Linked DNA regions of Homo sapiens: all the other regions are linked to region 1. Evidence: fine-mapped expression QTL. A gene starts in region 1. Each other region holds a variant in brackets. All regions are shown on one strand. Distances are from middle to middle.

Evidence for each region. PIP is the estimated chance that this variant, and not a neighbour inherited with it, causes the effect. A credible set is the group of variants that fine-mapping cannot tell apart.
Region 2: its variant is the best candidate, but not a certain one, in a credible set for the expression of B3GAT1 in minor salivary gland (GTEx, PIP 0.58).
Region 3: its variant is the best candidate, but not a certain one, in a credible set for the expression of B3GAT1 in whole blood (TOPMed, PIP 0.82).
Region 4: its variant is the best candidate, but not a certain one, in a credible set for the expression of B3GAT1 in sun-exposed skin (GTEx, PIP 0.56).

What each region holds. Positions count from the first base shown.
Region 1 is chr11:134,409,036-134,414,229 of GRCh38, reverse strand. It overlaps B3GAT1 (beta-1,3-glucuronyltransferase 1), which reads left to right and starts at 1,988. Exons shown (of 6, transcript NM_054025.3): 1 at 1,988-2,423. RefSeq lists an enhancer at 2,840-3,399.
Region 2 is chr11:134,494,519-134,499,712 of GRCh38, reverse strand. All of the region lies in intron 5 of B3GAT1-DT (B3GAT1 divergent transcript), which reads right to left. Among named protein-coding and RNA genes, the nearest start is that of B3GAT1-DT, 61 kb to the right of the region's middle. The variant C/T (reference allele first, on the strand shown) is at 2,277.
Region 3 is chr11:134,387,887-134,393,080 of GRCh38, reverse strand. B3GAT1 (beta-1,3-glucuronyltransferase 1) reads left to right here. Exons shown (of 6, transcript NM_054025.3): 2 at 5,141-5,194. Among named protein-coding and RNA genes, the nearest start is that of B3GAT1, 22 kb to the left of the region's middle. The variant G/T (reference allele first, on the strand shown) is at 2,906.
Region 4 is chr11:134,376,877-134,382,070 of GRCh38, reverse strand. B3GAT1 (beta-1,3-glucuronyltransferase 1) reads left to right here. Exons shown (of 6, transcript NM_054025.3): 5 at 47-147; 6 at 1,324-3,563. The coding sequence ends at 133. LOC124902798 (a long non-coding RNA gene) reads right to left here. Exons shown (of 2, transcript XR_007062961.1): 1 at 4,817-5,194; 2 at 3,730-4,007. Among named protein-coding and RNA genes, the nearest start is that of B3GAT1, 33 kb to the left of the region's middle. RefSeq lists an enhancer at 4,711-5,194. The variant A/G (reference allele first, on the strand shown) is at 2,644.

The sequences.
Region 1 (5,194 bases):
CATCTCCGAGCCACAGCCCAGCAGGACAAGTCGGACCACAGCCCACTTAGTCCAACCCTCTGTTTCATTACTGAAACCAGCCCTGAGGGGAAGTCTTTTGCTAGTGCCTTCAGAATCGGCCTGAAACCCAGGCCTCCTCGTCGCCATGTCCCTGAGCTCTCTTGAGATCACCCCTCATGGGTGTGTTTCCCTGTTGGTAAAATGAGGGTCTGGAACGAGACAGTCTTCACGGTCATTTCTGTCCTCCCATTTGGTGATTGTGTGACTGCGGCTGGCTGGCTTAGCAGAGGAGGGAGGCAATGTGCCCTCCTGGACGGCCTGGCCCCTCCTTGGTGCTCTCTGGTACCCCCGCCCATCCTGCTTCTGCACCTGCCCTTCCCCTCCCTTCAGCTGGTGTGGAGTCTAAGGAGAAGCAGAGTATGGAGACTAGGAAAATACCAGAGAACACCGACTTAGGAAAGGTCTCTTAGCAGAGTCTAAAAGAGAGGGTTGTAGTAGGGGCAGAAGAAGGCGGAGCAAGGCTGGCTGGGATTCCACTCATTAAGAGAAGGGGGAAATGCTCCTGTACCGCAGCAGGAGGTACTGAGGTTAGATTCAGAGGAAGTTTCTTGCCGGCAAAGGGGGCTGTTAAGCACAACAATGAAAGAGCGCACGACAAGGAGGAGCAGTTATCCCTAGAGATAGTCACTAAGGACACTTTCACATGTCTGTGGCATGATACGGACGGTGAGGTGCCTTCCTCCCCTCAAAATCTTGACCAAAGGGGCTGATTCTGGAGTCTCTGCCCCCTCCCCACCTGCACATCCTCAGTGGGAAGAGCAGGGCCCGGCTTGGTCCTAACAGGGCAGGAAAGCTGATGGAAAAGAGGCCCGTGGTCCTCAGCCCCAGCCCATAGCACGGGGGCACAGCTCTGGTTAAGCAGTGCCTAGCAGTGGGGCTGGAACTGGTTTCCCGGGAAGGAGGGAGACCCTAGAGAAAGTACCGACAGTCCCTGGTCCCGCCGCGAACCCCGCCATGGGAGGTGGCCTTCTCCTGGGGCTGTGAAGAGGACACAGCGGGTGTGGCCCGAATACAGGTGTCCAAGAGCACCGGGAGATGCCAACCTCTAAAACGAGTGCAAGGATGGCTTCAAAGTCTCCGACAAGCTGAAGGAGTATCTGGAATATACAGCTCCACAGAGGCACCCTACCAGTGCACCCACATACGTCCAAGTGCGCGCCCACTCACTGGCCTCCGTCCCCCGCCGACCAACACACCGCGGCAGAGGCCCGGGAAACTCCTGGAGATCCCGCTGCCCCCGGCCTCCCCGCGCCCGTCCGCCCACGCAGGCCTCCCGGGCCTCTCTCCGGAACGCCGGGTGCACCGGCCCGGAAGGGGAGGCTGGGGTGAGGCTGACGCGCGGCGGCTCGAGGTGCCCTTCCACGGGGCAGCAGACCCCGTACCCCGGCACGGCACCGTCCGCCCCCACCGGCCACCTCCCATCCGGGGTGCCTGGAGCCAAGGAAGGAGCCGCATCCCCCACCGGCTTCCCAGCTCGGCCTCTCGGTCCCAGAGCGCCGCCCCCCGCCCTCCTGCAGCAGCCCGGCCGGAAACAATCACCCTTTGAGAGAGGCTGCCAAGCTGGGCGCCAGGAGCAGCCAGGATGGAGGCGGGGTGGAATGGGGGTGCAGGCGGGGGCCGAGCTTTAACTCTCGAGAGCCGAGATCTGGGGGTGCGCTCGGCCCCTGCCCGCCACCCCTGCTCCGCCGCCTGAAGCGGGAGCCGCCTCCGCGGGGGACGGTGCCGGGGGAGGGTGGGGGGCGGTGGGGAGGTGATACCAATCCCGGGGGGGGGTCCCCTCGCCGGCCTCCCTCCTCGCGCCCCCGCCTAGGCTGGCGAGGTTGGTACCGACCATTAGCAGCTCGGGTCCCGCCGGCGCTGGCGCGGGCTCGGGGCGGGGGCGGGGCGGGGGCGGAGAGCGGGTGGGGGCGGGGCGGGAGGCGCCGGCAGAGCCGCGGCGGCACCGGCGCATCCGCCGCCACCTCGGGGACTCTGCGCCGGCCCGGTCGGCTCGGCTCCGGCCGCGCGCCCCCCTCGCCCCTCTCGCCCCCGCGCCCGCTCCCCGCTCCCCCTCCCCGCTCCCCCTCCCCGCCCCCCGCCCCCCGCCTCCCTGCCCGCGCCCTCCCTCCCGCGCGCTCCCAGCCTTCGGCCGCCGCCTCGCTGAGCCCAGAACGAGCCGGGCCGGGGCGGCGGGGCCGGGCGGGGCGGGCGGGCGCGCGGACCCCGCGGCTATGAAGTGGCCCCCGGGGGCCCGGAGCCCGACAGTCCCCGGGGAGGGAGCCGCACGCGGCCCAGGGCAGCGGTCTAGGGGCGCCGGGGCCGGGGCGTAGGGGCCGTTGCCCGCGATGGACCGCACCGGAGACGCTCCGGACTCGTCGCCGCAGGTCAGTGCTCCCCGCGCCCCCGCGGGCGCCCCGCCGCGCACAGAGCCCCTTTCTGCGTCCCCATCGGTGCCCACGCCATGTCCTCCCGGGCGCGCGCTGGGGTGTGTGTGTGTGTGTGTGTGTGTGTGTGTGTGTGCGCTGCGCGCGCTGGGGGCAGCTGGAAAGGGGGCCGAGAACCGAGCTCGGGCTGGGAGGCGCTGCTGCCGAGGGGCTGCGAAACAAAACCCGGCACAGCCTGCCCTCGTCGACCGGGATTAGGGGAAGAGCTGGTTCTCAGCAGCTTCTAACAATCGGCCCGGGCTCTCAGTCGTCAGTTCCCGGCCCCCTCAGCAGGTGGTTTCTGGTGGCCGGATGAGGAGTCAGGGGTCAGTCGTCCCCCACCTCCCCACCCCTGCTGCCCAACAGCGCTCTCTGGATCGCTCTCTGGCTCCTGGGCACTGCCAAGTTAACTCTCTTGAGGGGGCCCGAGCTCTGCGGGGCGCGCTGAGGGACCCAGGGGTAGCAAGGGTGGCAAAGGGCCCTTGGGACCTTCGGTGTAGCAAGGAGGAAGGAGGCGCGACCAGTTCACCACCCTCCCATCTGCACCTGGGCTCAGGTCTGAGGTCCCAATCCCTCCAAAGTCAGAGCACACAACTTCCAGAAAAAGGAGGCTGAGAGTTGAGGCAGGAAATAGAGAAGGAAGCCACCAGGTCCGACAGTGCCAGGGTAAGGAGGTGACAGCCCCGTACCAAGCAGCTAAGGTCAAGAACCACCCCCACATGCACACACATGGGAGCCTTGGCCAACTTCCCTGTCCCCTTCCTCCCCCAGCCAGGCCTAGCTGCATGGATTCTTGTAGAAGCTGGAGCTGAAGGACTCTGGACATACAGGAAGGGGACCTTTACTGACAGTTGCTAGCCCAGTGCATGGGCACCTGCATAGGTGGGGTGCCCAATGGGGCCTAGAGCTTGGGCTGTGTAGCACGCACTGTTGAAAATGTTGGGGTACGGATGTCGTAGGGCCTAGCACTGTGCAATGCCTGGATGTGTTTGTGTGGAAATGGGAGGCACATCACTCCCTAAGTTACTAGGGCTGTGGGGCATGTGGCTGCACAGGACTGTTGTTCTAGGGTTTTCTAAGATTTGTCTTCTGTGCTTATGTCGCCCTACCTCTGCTGGTAGCCACTGCAGAGACTGAGACATTTCCTCCCAGAGTCTGCTCAGTTGGTGACCATTAATGGCCTTACTGGACCAAACATCAAGCCTTCCCTTTCTTCCCATGGGGTGAAGACCCTTTCCCAGGGTCTTCAGACAGACTTCTCACTCTGCCCAGTCCATGCCCAGCACTGCCAAAGGTTCCAGAGCTTAGAGACATTTTCCCTCTTCCCCTTTTCATGGAAGCAGAAATACTTGCTAAGGTTAATGGGACTGGGAGAGTTAATGCATCTGTGCCCCATTCAGCACTGGAGCCAGGAGCTCGCTGTTCCTGTTTCTGTGCCTGACCCCAGGATGCTTGGGGATCACTCCAGGTCCAGGTGAGCTGGAAGCTTGCAGGCGCTGTGTTGAATATGTGTGTGTAGGTTTCTGGTTGGGCAGTTACTCACTGTTCCACCAGAAGCAGGGGGCAGGTAAATCACTGAGGAGATAAGCTCCAGCAACAGGATTGGAGCCCGTGGCGGAGACCAAGGAGCTTCACAGGAGGATGCCCTGGGGCAAGCCCAGTTCCTCAGCTTCGGCTTCTGGGGAGACCTGAAGGTTCTCTTAGTGGTTTCTCGGGGATAAGGGGACCAAGTCAGATATACTTTTCCTAGGTGTGGAGCACAGGGTGATGAGGCCGGCCAGGAGCTGGGAGTGTGAGATGGGGAAGAGGATGCACCAACCGAAAGGCTGAGCGGACAGGAGCATGGTGCTCCATTGTTTCTGGAAGAGAGGGATGAGTGTTCCTCTCTGATGAGAATGGAGAGGAGGAGAGGAACGGGCTCAGGAGGAGGAGGAATCCGAGAGAGAGCCTGACTGAGGCAGAGAAAGAGGCAGTGAGACAAGAGACAAAGGCACGGAGGCGCACTGGCGGACAGCAGAGGGAGGCACACAGGCAGAAGTCAGGGCCTCCCTGACTGAGTGGTGAGTTGGGGCAGGCTGGGGGCCTCCCCCTGTTCCCCTACATCGACCTCAGCAATTGTCCACCCCTGCAGGAGGCCCCTCACTAGAGCAGTTGGACATTCTACTGAGGAAGGTGCTTTCCTGTGGCTCTCAGGAATGTGAGGGTCTTTTAGACAGAAGCCCAAAGGCAGAGGGAGGCCAGGCTATGAGGTCAAGCACATCAAGAGCTTGCAGGGACTTTCAGGGACACCCTTCACCCCTGAGCATCTCACAATGCTGAGGGCTCCTCTCCATCTTCTGGCCCTGCCCCAGCCCTCCTGGTCCTGGAATGCAGGGCAGTGGGGAAGGATGTGGGGTCTGGGGAAACCTGGCACTCAGGAGAAGAAGAGAAGTCATGCACCCCCTCCCCAGGCCCCCAGGCAAAAAGACCTTTGGGGACCCTACTGAAGACTAGCCAGGGGACATGGAAGAAGTGCAGTGGGGACAGGCCCTTGGCCAGGCTGTCTGAGGTCCAGTCTCATCTCCATCTGTGGCTAGCCGAGTAGACTTTGAAAAAAACAGAGCTCTCTAAGCCCCGGCTTCCTGGCAGTCTATAAATTGGGAAACTGTCATCTCACCAGTTTTTAGAAGAAATACTAGATGAATTTTAATTTAATCTATTTATTTTATACACCCTCACCCCCTTGCTTCCAG
Region 2 (5,194 bases), 85 kb before region 1:
ACGATCATGATTTTACGAATGAGAAAACCAAGGCGACAGCCTGAGATCATATCACTGATCGGGGCAGAGTGAGGGTGATGGCCAGACTCTGAGTGGTCCCACCAGGCCACTCAACGGCTCTTTCAGGGACCTGAGAGTCCCGTGCATGGCTCGGTCTCCTGGGGCCCATCAACAGAGTCTCCAGGACATCCTCAGACATTGCTCCCTGCTCTCTCTTTCCAGATCCTCAGATTCAGTATGTCGTGCACATCCAGTCTTCTTTTCTGCAGCCCTCTTATAGAGACGAGGTGTGTGCAAGAACCAGCATGGGTGTGCACAGGCACACACGGGAGCACCAGCAGACACAAGTTTCCTCCCAGGGACACAGATGCCCCTCAGAAGCGTCCATTCACTAATACATGAAAACTCACAGGAGCGTGTCTCACATTTGACAGTTTACATGTAACCTTTAATTGCTCAATTCATATCCGCCTCCCCTGTTGGACTAAACAGTCCATAAGAGCAAAAAAAGATCGAGTTTGCAGTCCCGGAGTACCCTACAGGGCCTGGCCCATAGCAGACCTTCAATAACAGGTCTTCGATAAACCTGGGTTGAGTCGAGTACATACACAGACACATGAGCAGACACACAGGAGTGTGCATGTGAGCACGGGTGTCTTGTGGGACACGCACCTGCATGCACACGTGGGCATGTTCACCCACTCTCACACGTGCACAGCCACGCTGCACATGGGAGGCATGGAGGCACACACAACACTCTCGGGTACCGGTGGCACCTTCCTCTTCACTGGTGGGAGGGGGAGGGGAAGCTCCTGTAGAGCCCCCAGGCCACCATGGGCTGCTCCCAAAGCGTGTTCCGGCAGGGCCTACTGTTTTTCTCCATCTGCAGGCTGGGGTGAGCTACAGAGATCATCTGTAGGGGAGCTGAGCCCCACTGGGAACTAACAGCAGCGACCCAGATGGCAGTCAGTGGCGGCAACGACAAAATTGTGTCCAACTGAAGGCCTGGCCTCAACCAGCACCAGGAGCCCTACCCCATGGGGTTGTGGAACTCTCCAGAGGTCCCCACACCCCCTGGAATGAAGTCCACAGTGGCATTAAACTGTCTGGGCTCAGAGCCCAGTCCAGGAGCCAGAGACAGAGCAAAGCACCATGGGCTGACACTGCCTTCCCCCAAGATGCCCTGCTGCTTGGGAGGTGAGCCGAGAGGCAGCTTCAGTGCCAGAGCCAGGCACCCAGCCAGCCCACTCCGGCTTCAGCGAGAACATGGCTTCCTCAGGCTCTTCACTGCAGAGGGAGGGCTCTGCACACAACAAGGCTCTGGTTGGGACCGTGATACAGATCTGAGTGCTGAGGCTTCTGAGGCTGTCGCTCCTGCCCTAGGAGCTGGCACTGGGAGCCCCCATTCTGCCTAGGACTGTGAGCCCCTCCCCAGGTAACAGAGCTCCCTCCCAGGTAAATGCAGAGGATGGACCCCTGGGAAAATGAAGGGAAGGAGAAAGAGCACCACAGAGGAAAGCTGTCCACCACCCAAAGTACAGAGAACAAAAGCAAAGCACCATTCCAGTTAATACATGCCCCCACTACACACTGAGCACCAAGGAGCTAGGCCCGTGCCCAGGGCTGGAGCGAGGACACTCCTGCCTTCATGCCTGCACTCCAGGAGCTCACAGTTTCTTCCTCTGAAGCCCGTCCTCCACCCAGGCACCAAGGAACCCTTTTTTTGGTCTCTAAAATCATAGTTTGTTACCCTCCTTCAAGCCTCCCAGTGGCTTCCCAATAAGGTGCAAACTCATTTCCTGGTGGCCCAGCCTCCAAGGCCTGGCTCTTGCCCTCCTCTCTCACCTCTCTCTTGTCTCCTTTCTGCCCCTGAGCAGGTTCACTTCCTCCTGGGCCTCGGCCCATCCCTCTGGCACGTCCCTCTCCAGGAGCCCTGCCCTGGAGTCCTGTGTAAACAGCCAGGCACGCTCTGCCACTCAGCTATGGTTTCCTTCTTCATTCTTGTTTGTTTACTAAATCAGCTGCCAAAACAAAACAATGGGGGACTTCAATCACACGGCAGGGTGCCCCTCTGAGACGAAGCTTCCAGAAGAACAATCAGGCAGCAACATTTGCTGTTCTGAAATATTTGCTGTTCTGCAGACTCCACTGGTGATACCCAGGCAAACAGGGTCTGGAGTGGACCTCCAGCAAACTCCAACAGACCTGCAGCTGAGGGTCCTGACTGCTAGAAGGAAAACTAACAAACAGAAAGGACATCCATACCAAAACCCCAT[C/T]GGTATGTCACCATCATCAAAGACCAAAGGTTGATAAAACCACAAAGATGGGGAGAAACCAAAGCAGAAAAGCTGAAAATTCTAAAAATCAGAGCTCCTCTCCCCCTCCAAAGAAATGCAGCTCCTCACCAGCAACAGAACAAAGATAGACAGAGAATGACTTTGACGAGTTGAGAGAAGAAGGCTTCAGATGACCAAACTTCTCCAAGCTAAAGGAGGAAGTTTGAACCCATGGCAAAGAAGTTAAAAACCTTGAAAAAACATTAGACGAATGGCTAACTAGAATAACCAGAGTAGAGAAGACCTTAAATGACCTGATGGAGCTGAAAACCATGGCACGAGAACTACGTGATGAATGCACAAGCTTCAGTAGCCGATTCGATCAACCAGAAGGAAGGGTATCAGTGATTGAAGATCAAATGAATGAAATGAAGCGAGAAGAGAAGTTTAGAGAAAAAACAGAAAAAGAAATGAACAAAGCCTCCAAGAAATATAGGACTATGTGAAAAGACTAAATCTACGTCTGATTGGTGTACCTGAAAGTGACAGAGAGAAGGAAACCAAGTTGGAAAACACTCTGCAGGATATTATCCAGGAGAACTTCCCCAACCTACCAAGGCAGGCCAACATTCAAATTCAGGAAATACAGAGAACATCACAAAGATACTCCTCAAGAAGAGCAACTCCAAGACACACAATTGTCAGATACACCAAAGTTGAAATAAAGGAAAAAATGTTAAGGGCAGCCAGAGAGAAAGGTCGGGTGTACCCACAAAGGGAAGCCCATCAAACTAACAGCTGATCTCTCGGCAGAAACTCTACAAGCCAGAAGAGAGTGGGGGTCAATATTCAACATCCTTAAAGAAAGAATTTTCAACCCAGAATTTCATATCCAGCCAAACTAAGCTTCATAAGTGAAGGAGAAATAAAATCCTTTACAGACAAGCAAATGCTGAGAGATTTTGTCACCATCAGGCCTGCCTACAAGAGCTCCTGAAGGAAGCACTAAACATGGAAAGGAAAAATCAGTACCAGCCACTGCATAAACATGCCAAATTGTAAAGACCATTGATGCTAGGAAGAAACTGCATAAACTAACGAGCAAAATAACCATCTAACATCATAATGACAGGATCAAATTCACACATAACAATATTAACCTTAAATGTAAATGGGTTAAATGCTCCAATTAAAAGACACAGACTGGCAAATTGGATAAAGAGTCAAGACCCATCAGTGTGTTGTATTCAGGAGACCCATATCATGTGCGGAGACACACATAGGCTCAAAATAAAAGGGATGGAGGAAGATCTTCCAAGCAAATGGAAAACAAAAAAAAGGCAGGGGTTGCAATCCTAGTCTCTGATAAAGCAGACTTTAAACCAACAAAGATCAAAAGAGACAAAGAAGGCCATTACATAATGGTAAAAGGATCAATTCAACAAGAAGAGCTAACTATCCTAAATATATATGCACCCGATACAGGAGCACCCAGATTCATAAAGCAAGTTCTTAGAGACCTACAAAGAGACTTAGACTCCCACACAATAATAATGGGAGACTTTAACACCCCACTGTCAACATTAGACAGATCAATGAGACAGAAAGTTAACAAGGATATCCAGGAATTGAACTCAGCTCTGCACCAAGTGGACCTAATAGACATCTACAGAACTTTCCACCCCAAATCAACAGAATATACATTCTTCTCAGCACCACATTGCACTTATTCCAAAATTGACCACATAGTTGGAAGTAAAGCACTCCTCAGCAAATATAAAAGAACAGAAATTATAACAAACTGTCTCTCAGACCACAATGCAATCAAACTGGAACTCAGGATTAAGAAACTCACTCAAAACCGCTCAACTACATGGAAACTGAAAAACCTGCTCCTGAATGACTACTGGGTACATAACAAAATGAAGGAAGAAATAAAGAAGTTCTTTGAAACCAATGAGAACAAAGACACAACATAACATACCAGAATCTCTAGGACACATTTAAAGCAATGTGTAGAAGGAAATTTATAGCACTAAATGCCCACAAGAGAATGCAGGAAAGATCTAAAATTGACATCCTAACATCACAATTAAAAGAACTAGAGAAGCAAGAGCAAACACATTCAAAAGCTAGCAGAAGGCAAGAAATAACTAAGATCAGAGTAGAACTGAAGGAGATAGAGACACAAAAAACCCTTCAAAAAATCAATGAATCCAGGAGCTGTTTTTTTTGAAAAGATTAACAAAATTGATAGACCACTAGCAAGACTAATAGAGAAGAAAAGAGAGAAGAATCAAATAGATGCAATAAAAAATAATACAGGGGATATCACCTCCTATCCCACAGAGATACAAACTACCATCAGAGACACCTCTATGCAAATAAACTAGAAAATCTAAAAGAAATGGATAAATTCCTGGATACATACACCCTCCCAAGACTAAAGCAGGAAGAAATTGAATCCCTGAATAGACCAATAACAGTCTCTAAAATTGAGGCAATAATTAAGAGCCTACCAACCAAAAAAAGTCCAAGACCAGATGGATTCACAGCTGAATTCTACCAGAAGTACAAGGAGGAACTGGTACCATTCCTTCTGAAACTATTCCAATCAATAGAAAAAGAGGAAATCCTCCCTAACTCATTTTATGAGGCCAGCATATCCTGATACCAAAGCCTGGCAGAGACACAACAAAAAAAGAGAATTTTAGACCAATATCCCTGATAAACATTGATCCAAAAATCCTCGATAAAATATTGGAAAGCTGAATCCAGCAGCACATCAAAAAGCTTATCCACCATGATCAAGTGGGCTTCATCCCTGGAATGCAAGGCTGGTTCAACATATGCAAATCCATAAACGTAATCCAGCATATAAACAGAATCAAAGGCAAAAACCACATGATTATCTCAAT
Region 3 (5,194 bases), 21 kb after region 1:
GCCTTTGGGAACATTTTGCGTTCACACGTCACCTGCACTGGAGCGAGCTGTGTCGTCTCTTCCGCTCTGGACTGAGCAAAGCTTCCCCACCCTGGATTGCCCACAGAATCCAACACAGTGCTTTGCCTGCTACAGATGCTCAATTAATATTTGTTGAGTGAAATTAAATAAGCTCCTCTCCTCAGGGCCTGAGGCATTGCTGAGGCCTTCGTTTGAACACCTGCAGGCTCAGAAGAAAACCTTTCCATGCTTTTACAATTGGCCAGCCTTGAACCACCCCTGCACATGCTCCAGCCTCACATGTTCTGCCCCAGCCTGGGTCAATCAGAGCCTTCCCATCTGAGTCCCAGACACCCCCTAGTCCTTATTCACAGCGCACAGCACCCTAAAACCCATAGACAAATTCCTCTCTGGAGGTGCCATGGCTCATACCTGTAATCTCAGCACTTTGGGAAGCCAAAGCAGGAGGATCTGTTGAGCCCAGTAGGTTGAGACCAGCTGGACAGCATAGTGACACCCTGTCTCTACAAAAAAGAATTTTAAATTAGCTGGACATGGTGGCAGGTACCTGTGGTCCCAGCTACTTGGGAGGCTAAGGCAGGAGGATCACTTGAGTTCCGGAACTCAAGCCTGCAGAGAGCTGTGATCATGGCACTGTACTCCAGCCTGGGTGACAGAGTGAGACCCTGTCTCTCAAAACAAAACCAAATGCCACAAATTCCTGCAGAGAGGTGTTCCCAGTATGGCCGATCTCCATAGGCATACTGGCCCTTAAGTCAGGACTCAGTTCCACGGGCCCTTAAGTCAGGACTCAGTTCCATGGGTGCTGGCCCTTAAGTCAGGACTCAGTTCCACGGGTGCTGGCCCTTAAGTCAGGACTCAGTTCCACGGAGGCTGTTTTGTTGGCGCTCTTGCCTCGCCTCTGGCCCTAGGTGCCCACTGAGCTACACTTTCCTCACATAGGACATCCCTTCATCTTCGCAGAGCCCTATGGTAACCTCCAGTTGCTAAAATGGCAGGATCGTTGAAACTTCCAGCTCAACCTCCCTATTGTAAAGACGAGGTCAAGGAGGGCAATCAGCATGACCCAGGTCCCCGTGGAGCACCTGCCGGACACGTCCAGGCCGCCACCCTCCCACTCCCATGTGCTGCCCCAGCTTCTGCTCCCCATCTGGGAACCACCCTCCACTCTCCCACAGGGAAGTGCTTGCTTCCCTCTGAGGCTCTGAGGGCACCCGGGGAGGGCAGGGCACAGCCTTTTGTGTCTCTACTTGCCGAGACGCCTGAGATCTGAGGTTGGTCACAGATATGGTGCAAGTGTCAGGATGGGAGTTGTGACCACGGCAGGCCTGGGCCCTACACTCACACACACTGCCCACGCCGCGTCCTGCCTCTCCACGAAGTCCCCCTTGTGCCTCCACCCATCTCCTCCTCCAGCACCCCATTCTTCCCCGTGCTTGCCTCCATCTCCTGGGCTCTCCTGGGTGTGGCCAAGCCACTCCTGCACCTTTGTGCTGATTCTTCTGCCTGACCCAAGGTCCTAGAAGCCATTCTGGGGTCCTTGTTAGAGACAGCCTGCGACCACAGACAAACACCGCCCTCCTCCAAGCCCCAGGCAGAAGCAGCAGGCTGCGAGAGGGGACCAGTGCTGGCCAACCTTGCAGCCCCGTCTCAGACTGGGGCCCAGAGCTGGGGGCAGGTGCAGCCCACCCGCTGCCTGGCCCCAAGCCCCTGCCCAGCCCAGGCATCACATCCCACGACCTGCCCCCTGCCGGCCAGCTGGCGTTCTCCAGGCTGGGGGCTCTCTGTGTTCTGCTTGATAACTGCCTGGTAATTAGCTCCACGATTTTGCTACTATGCTTATAATAGCCTCCATTAAAGTTATGGGGTTTTCAAGCCATAATGGCTTCCAGAGTAATTAATGCACAACTGGGTTTATTGCTGAGTTTATTTTTAGAGGTTTTCTCCCTCTCTCCCCCTCCCTTTTCTCTCATAGATGTTTTGACCAAAAAGACTGGATGGGAGCAGAAGGCACCCCACGGCACCCTTGCCCACAGGCCCCATCCTCCCCTCTCTTCCCTTCCCGCCCCTCCTTCCTGCTTCAGCCTCCAAGCAGGTGCTAGGGCCCTGCAGTGGGGGCAGCCATTGCAGAGGAGGGTGGCTGTGGTCCAGGCCAGAGGAAGCATTTGGCCTGTGTGTGCCCCTTACCCACCCTGCGCCTGGCCCAGGTTCGAGAGGCTTGGAGGCCTGGGACCTCTTATCCTATGCCCCCGATGACAGCATAGAGCCAGATGGCCTGGACTCAATTCCAGCTCCACCATTTCCTAATGGTTGACCTCAGGCAAGTTACTCCCCTTCTCTGGCCTCGATGAACCCACAGGGACCACAGCCATGCCTACTGCACAGGGCTGCTGTGACGTTGCAGGAGCAGGTGCATGTGAAGAGCTGAGCCTCATCTTCGGACATCTCTCATGCTATAGGGAAGTTTGTATAAACAACAGTGCAAGCGGGGGCTGAGAGGCTGCCCCAAAGGAAAGGCAGTGGCCCACAGGGACTGAGCTGGCAGGACACTCATCTTCTCTCCTTGGCTTTCTCCATCCTGGTATTAGAACCTGCACCAACACCAGGAGCACTTGAGAAAGCTCCTTCGAGAGTCTCTGAGAACACAGAAGAAATCTTCCTGGACATTTCTGAAGCCCCAGCCAGGCCCAGCCTCCCCATCCTTCATCAGATGTGGCCTAAGATCCAAACGTGTCTTGGCCAAAGAACCAAAACGTGTCTTGACACGCAGCCCCATGCAGCCCCAGCAGTGGCCTGGGTGTGGAGGGACAGGCTAAATCTGGGGGATGTGGCATGAAGTCACTTGCATCTCAGACCACAAGACCCAGCAGGCATCCCGTGTGGG[G/T]TTCTAGGCTCTGTCCCTCACTGGGCCAGCAAAGAGGAGTTTACGGGCGGACACAGACACACACGGCCTAGAATGTCCACTAGGGGAACTACGTGCCTGTGACGTTGAACCCCAGTGGGTCTTCCACTCCCCGGGGAATGGGTGGGGGAGACTCTCTGGATGGAGTGGGCCTCTGATGGCGGGGTGTGGGCAGGGGATGCCGGCCGTCCTGGGAAACCACAGTGCTCCTTAATGGAGGGGATGCCGGCCGTCCCGGGAAACCACAGTGCTCCTTAATGGAAGACAAATCCTGGTCTTCCACAGGCGTCAGAACTATTTGGAGAGAGGACCCGGTGAGGAGAGGAAAACACGCTATTTTGGAAACTCAGGGGCTAAAAACCCTCCTCGGCCATAGCACTCGACTCTGCCTGAAATGGTGAGCACACGTGAGCTGGGGCAGGAGCAGGCAGCATGGCCCCCAGGTGAGGTACTGTCCGTATCCAACACTGGGCACTGGGACGGGTGGGCACAGTGAGGCTGGCTGGGCTGCCCGAGGCTGCCTGCCCTCCCCACCACCCCCACGGGTCCCTGCTGCATCATGCATGGTGCTCAGCACAGAAGTGAAAAGGGAGGAGAAGAGGATGTGACAGTTTCCAAGGCGGTCAGGAGGTCTCTTCGCCCAGTGTCCTTGCCATGTGAGAGAACGGTTCCCAGAGATGCTACCAGTGGACCCTCTGCAGGACTGAGGAATCCCAGTGGCTCATTCTCCTCACTTGGGCCCCCTGCTGTTCTCATTTTGGAGGACTGTCTCCCCTCAATGTGGCAGCCCCTGCGGGGACCCCTCTTCTTGCTGCTGCCCAGCCCAGCACCTGGTGCTCTGTCCTGCACAGAGCGGTGCTCCACAAGGATGTCCTATTGACACGGAAGAGGAAGGCACTCTCGTACTTCCCCCCAGGGACCATCCCAGAAACATCTCTTCTTTGTCCTCAAAAGACTGTCACCAAAATGCAAATTGAAACCACAGTGAGATACTATCTCACACCAGTCAGAATGGCTATTACTAAAAAGCCAAAAAATATTAGATGCTGATGAGGCTGCAGAGAAAAGGCAACACGTATACTCTGTTGGTGGGAATGTAAATTAGTTCAGCCACTATGGAAAGCAATTTGGAGATCTCTCAAGAACTTAAAACAGAGCTGCCATTCTAGCCAGCAGTCCCATTACTGGGTATGTATCCAAAGGAAAATAAAGTGTTTCACAAAAAAAACACCTGCACCTGTATGTTCATCGCAGCACTATTCCCAATAGCAAAGGCATGGAATCAATCTAGGTGCCCATCAGTGGTGAACTGGGTAAAGAAAACATGGTGCATATACAGCAAGGAATACTACACAGCCATAAAAAAGGACAAAATCATGGCCTTTGCAGCAGCCTGGATGCAGCTGGAGGCCATTATCCTGAGCAAATTGACACAGGAACAGAAAACCAAACACGATGCATTCTCACTTATGAGTGAGAGCTAAACACTGGGTACTCATGACTGTAAACATGAGAAGAATACACACTGAGGACTCTCAAAGGAAGAACGGCTGAAAAACGCCCTGTTGGGTACTATGCTCATACCTGGGCAGCGGGATTCATCATACTCCAGATCTCAGCATCACATGCAATATGACCCATAACAAACCTGCACATGTGCCCCCAAATCTAAAATGTTGAAATTATTTTTAATATAATAATTCGTGGTCCATATATGGTTAAAAAAAAGAAAAAAGAGAGAGAGAAAATAAAACCTCTCACCCCTTTATCCAGGCTTTGATAAGTAGCTGGCATTTTAGGGCTGCACGGGAGTTACCCTGTTTAATTCTGAGAATGACCTTATGAGGTAGGGATCCACAGTGCCCCATTTTATAGATGGGAAAACTGTGGCATGGAGAACGGAAATGACTTGGCAAAGGTCTTACAGCCTGTGGGTGGCACAGTTGGGATTTAAACCTGGTGTCTCTGCAGTCTGTGCTTCTGACCCCTGCACCCTACTGACTTTCATAAATGGAGCAGAGCCATGGCCCTGTGCCTGTGGGAAGGACAGAGCCCATTCCACTCTAACAGGCAGACAAAAGAGGTCCTCAGGTGATGGACAGTTGAGGCTCCATTGTGGAACCCCCGATGCTGTGTGTCCCAGAGCAGGGCCCAGCCTTGCTGGCATCCATTCCTATACCTGGGTCTCTGGCTATCCGCTTCTGCTCTCTCTTGCAGGTGTCCACCCCCCAGGGTTCCTGACCCCTGCCCCTGGACAGCGACCCCTTCTCA
Region 4 (5,194 bases), 32 kb after region 1:
AGGTCAGGGGCCTGTCCCACCATGTTTTGCATCTCTGGGCACACAGATCCTGGTGTGGCACACACGGACAGAGAAGCCAGTGCTGGTGAATGAGGGCAAGAAGGGCTTCACTGACCCCTCGGTGGAGATCTGAGCCTCAGGATGCAGGTATGGGCATGACGAGGGTGGGCCACACACTGGGCAGGGCGGCACCAGGTTGGGCCGAATCAACTGTCTCATTCTTTTCCTCTTGGGCTTTCACTGTGGAGGACAGGGCAGATGTGGGCAGGAGTGGAGGGCGTCGTCACCACAGTCCCCTTCCCACTGGGCCACCTGAAAGTATCCAGGCATTAACTTTCACCCACGCAGCTGGGTCCTTCTGCCACCAGACTCTTCAGAGGGTGTCACCTTCCAAACATCTTGCTGATTTTTCTGCTGGCAGTGACGCCTGCACCCCACAAGGCACTGCCATTCAGACTCTCGCTGGCCAGCGTCTGTCCCCCCAAGTCTGCCTCTTCCCCTGTGGATTCCTTCACCACGTGGCCATGGTGAGGACTCACGGACTCGCTGCTCCACAGCAATGAGCCCACGGCTGTCATAGTGAGAGGTAGCGCAGAGTGACAGCACGGACCCAGAGCCCACCTCAGCTCCCAGGACCCCTGCTCTTCACTGTTTGACCTGACTTGACTTTTCTGGGCCTCAGTTTCTTCATCTGTGAAGTAGGTTGCTGAGAGCACCTAGAACAGTTCATGGCACTTAAATCTCATCAGTGTGGCTATTTTTATTCAAGTCTTTAAAGCCCTCTCTGGAAGTAGGCCACAGGATCCACCTACACTTCAGAAGCAAAGAAATGATGTTGAGAGAAGCTAAATGAATGTTCCAAGGTGACACACTGGCACGAGTGAATTGTGCTGGGTGGTTGGCAAAGCCAGGCATTTTCAGGGGCTTTTCTGTGATCTTATCCTGTCTCTTAAAAGCAGCTGGTACTCCTGACTCCCTACTCTAGGTTATGCCAAACAGAGGTTGAGGCCTGAGACAGACATTTGTCCTCTTGCCCTGGAGCTAAGCAATAGCTTCTGTATTGTGTTTGCCCGCAGAGGACCACAGGGTGTCACTCAGTCACCTTGGCCAGCGCCACTTAGAATGCATCTGTACCGAGCCTCACTTCTGCCTCCTGCCCTCACTGCCCTCACTGGAAGCACCTTCCCCACCTGCCCCTCAGAAAGGCCCCCACAGGACCTGGGGGCCTGGGCTTTGCAGAGGTCCTGGTGGCCCTGCCTGGCCATTCCCTCCCCGGCCCCACCCTCAGCCGACACCTCACTCATTCCTCCTCTCCCCTCACAGGAGCCTCCTCCTCAGACCCTGTTCTTGGCCTTCCATCCTCTCCCCACGGCTGATGGTCCCTCCAAGGCCGACTCCTAAGGAATCACCATCACCCTCCTTTCTATTCTGGGGGCTTCTGAGAGAGCCCAGCCTGATGCCAGAACAAAGGACAGAGAATTTAAGCACAGAAATCCCAGACCTGTTGTTCTCTCCATCCAGCGTGACCAGGGCCCGAGAGACCTGATGGCCAGGGTGGGGTGTCCAGCACCAGCCAAGCTGGTGCTCCAGCGCACCTCCCCAGAGCTCCCCGCACTGACGGGGCTGCAGGAGCAGGTGCAGTGGGCGCCCACACTGGCCCTGCAGTGATGCAGGGCGGGAGGGAGATAAGAAGACCCCGCAGTCAAGTGGAGCATGGCCCTCCCTGGCTCCCTGTCCCTGGGCTCAGCACGACCACACAGGACACCCAGCCAGGGAATTCTGAAGACCAGAGAGCAGCCCACGGGCATCACGAGCGCTCTGCTCCTCTCCTGGGCCCCTGCTCTTCCCGAGAGCTGCCCCCAAATCAGACATACCTCTGTGGCTCTCCTCTGGTTCACGTTTACAGAGCATAAGGCTGTCTTGGATCCCAACAGGCACCCAGCCCTGCATGGGGGGAGCCTGGGCCTAATAGGCACCCCCTGTACCTCAGGCTGTGGCGGGAGCAGAGTCCCCCCCTCCGGCCCCTCTTCCTTTACCCCTTCTCCTCCAGCAGTGGCAAAGGGGTAGGCTCTAGAGCCAGCACAGGTCACTGCCTGACCTGGACTAAGAACCCCACGGCCCCACTGTCCACACACTGCCTCCCCACCGCCCACCTCGGCTGCTAGGCCCCTCGCCTGGACTGGACTGGGGAGGGAAAGCGCCTTTTCCTGCAGCTCTTCAGAGCCACAGACCTCAGGGTGGAGTGAGCCCATGGTGGGCAGTGGGCAAGGCGGTGGGTGGTGGGCAAGGTGGGACCTCCTGCAGCCTGGAAAGAGGAGGGAGGCCAAGGCCATTCCCTAACTCCCTCCTGCCCCTGGTCTGAGGAGGAGGGACTCTGGAGTAGCAGAGGGGCTGGGAAAGAGGGGGCAGGGGCTGCTGGGACACTGAGCAGGAGGGAGGCCTGAGCACACTGCTTTGGAAATTATTCTAAACACAAAAAAGGGAAAGAAAATGTTATTTCTCCCTAAGTCAGGAGCATGCAGAGCTAGCCCACCTCATGTCCAGCTGTCCACTTTCCATCCTGGAGAAAGAACAGTGTGCCTCAAACTCCTGCCCTCCCCAGGCCTCTGGGGCCCACTGGAAAGGGCTCTGACCCCCTGGCCC[A/G]GCCGGGCTCTCTAGTGGTGATCCGGCTCATTCTCCTGCAAGTTGGAAGCACAATTTTCCCCCCAAGTGGAGGAAAAGGAAAGGGCCCCAGCCTACTGAAGAGGTGTTTATTTTTTAACTAACAGCCTCCCACCCCATTAAGACTCACCAGGAGAGGTCTGAGGGCCATTCAGAACCCACTCCTGAGTGGGTGGGTGGGTGGGACTCAGTCCAGAGACCTAACATTCAGAATATAGCATTGGTTGCCTATTTTGAGATGGATTTAATCTCCCACAGTATTCATGAGACCATCTGATGGAATCAGATCCCTGAGCCACCTTGCAGGACGTTTTCCCCAACCTCTTACACCCTGGATGTCACTTTGGAAACCAAGCCCTTGGAAGCAAGTGGGGTGGCATGGGAGAGAAGGGAGGAGGTGGGCACAGGTGGTGAGCTTATGTGTGGGCACTCTACTGCCTCACAGAAGCCAGCCAAGTGCCAAGGTCAGCTTGGCTGGTCTGAGGCCACCTTCTTAGCCAAAAACCTAGGGTTCATTTTCAGGACTTTGATAATGAACAACAAAATGGGGACTTCTTTGGGCAGATGCTAGGTCAGTTGTTTTCACCTAATATCCTCTTTTAGCTGCATGTATATTTATTTATAATTATAACCCTGGTGGACTGCAGCCTTCATCTTTATTGGGAATGAGTTTGTTATAAATCAGAAATGGGTCCATGATGACCACTGTTTTCCAAACCCAGTCTGTTCCCTGCTCCCTCGCTGGCAAGCCCCACCACACAGGAGTGAGGCCAGGGGCTAGGAGTTCTAAGAACAGAGGCTGGGGTGAGGGTGGCACCCAGGCAGCTGCATCTGGTCTGTTTTAATTTAACTGTATTTAATTTGCTTTCAAAATTAAAAGTCAAATACAGTTTTTAACAGTCCTAATCCTCTTCAGCCCTGCCTTATTTTGTTCTCATTTATTAATTTAGCTACCCAACAAGTATGTATCAGGTGCCTGTTATGAACAGGCATCATTCTAGGAGCCGACACACAGCAGTGAGAAAACAAGGCTCTCATTTTCAAAGAACTGACCCACTGACGAGAGGAGACAGGCAATAACGAATGCATATTATTTCAGATGCAATCTGTTGTATGGAGGATGAGGGTGAGTCGGGGAGACAGAGGTAGCAGTGGAGAGGGTCAGTGCTCTGTAGGGTGACCACAGAGGCCTCCGTGATAAGTGACCCTTGAGCGAAGCAGCAACACCCTGACATGCAGCTCCCCGGGCCCAAGAAGAACGAACTCTCCACCAGGCGGAACAAGCGTTGCTCAGCCTGCTTACAGATCAGCAGGAAGGCCATCGGGCTCAACTGACGGGGCGGGGGCTGCTGGGGGCAACAGCAGTGAGGGATGTGGTGGGCGTGGGAGAAGGGAGTCCCCAGGCACCGGGTGAAACCAGAAGGCAATAGGGGGTCCAGTACGGAGGACTAACATAATCTATCCATCTCTAAGAAGAACTGCCCTGCTCCTCCACGGAGGATAAATGGAGAGGGCAAGGGCAGGTGGAGACGTGGCTCCTGGAATCATCCAGGCCAAGATGCAGTGGGCTGAGTGGGGGCATGGGGTTGGGGCAGAGAGAAGCAGTCAAATTTTGGCCAAGTTTAGGAGGCAGAGCCAGGAGGATCTGCTGCTGGATTGGATGTGGGAGATAAAGAGAGGGGTCCAAAATAGCCCGAGACACAGAACAGCACTGCCATTTCCAGATACAGGGCTGCGTGCAGGAGGGGTAATGTGGGGAAATGGAGCTCTGTGTCAGGTGCCTGTTAGACACATGCAGAAGAAAATGCGCCCCCACACACCTGGAGCTCAGGTGCAGCCCAGCATCGGCGGGCGCGGGTGTCCAACCTGTTTACAAACCACAGGTGCACGGGTGAGACCCTATGCAGTGAGTGTGGACAGAGGAAAGAAACAGCCCAAGGAGTGGGCCAGAGACCCCCAGCATTCAGAGGCTGGATATGAAGAGGGATTCTCCAAAGAGACCTAGATGAGGCCATACCGTGTGGAAGATAATGGAAACATCTTTAGTCAACGCTGGAGAATAAGCTCTGCCAAGAGGTACTTTGATAGAGAAGCTGAGCAATTAACTGGCAGAAAATAAGGGTGAGAATAAGAAGCTGGTGTAGGAAGACCTCACCTTAGGAAACCACAGTGTGTCCTGCTCAGGTCTGCGTGGAAGTGTGATCCAAGGGGCTTCTCCACCTTACAGGAGGATTTGCAGGAAGGTTCCCTTCCATTCCATCACTTTCTGACGGAACCAGCTCATACACAGCTCTGCAGAAGCACACACTCAGGTAAAGCGGGGCAGAAGACCCTGCAGGTGGCTCAGGCCACACCCAAGTAGCCCGAGTCTCATCCACATCTTAGCCCCATGCTTGTCGTTCCGAGGCAGTTCCAGAAGAACTGGTGAGTTTGGGCAAAACCAGGGACTCTGCCCCATGTTGTTCCCAAGCCACTGTCCACAAGCTTTCCTTTAATAAGCTCCATTTAATAAGCCCTTGACCCGGCTCAGCTG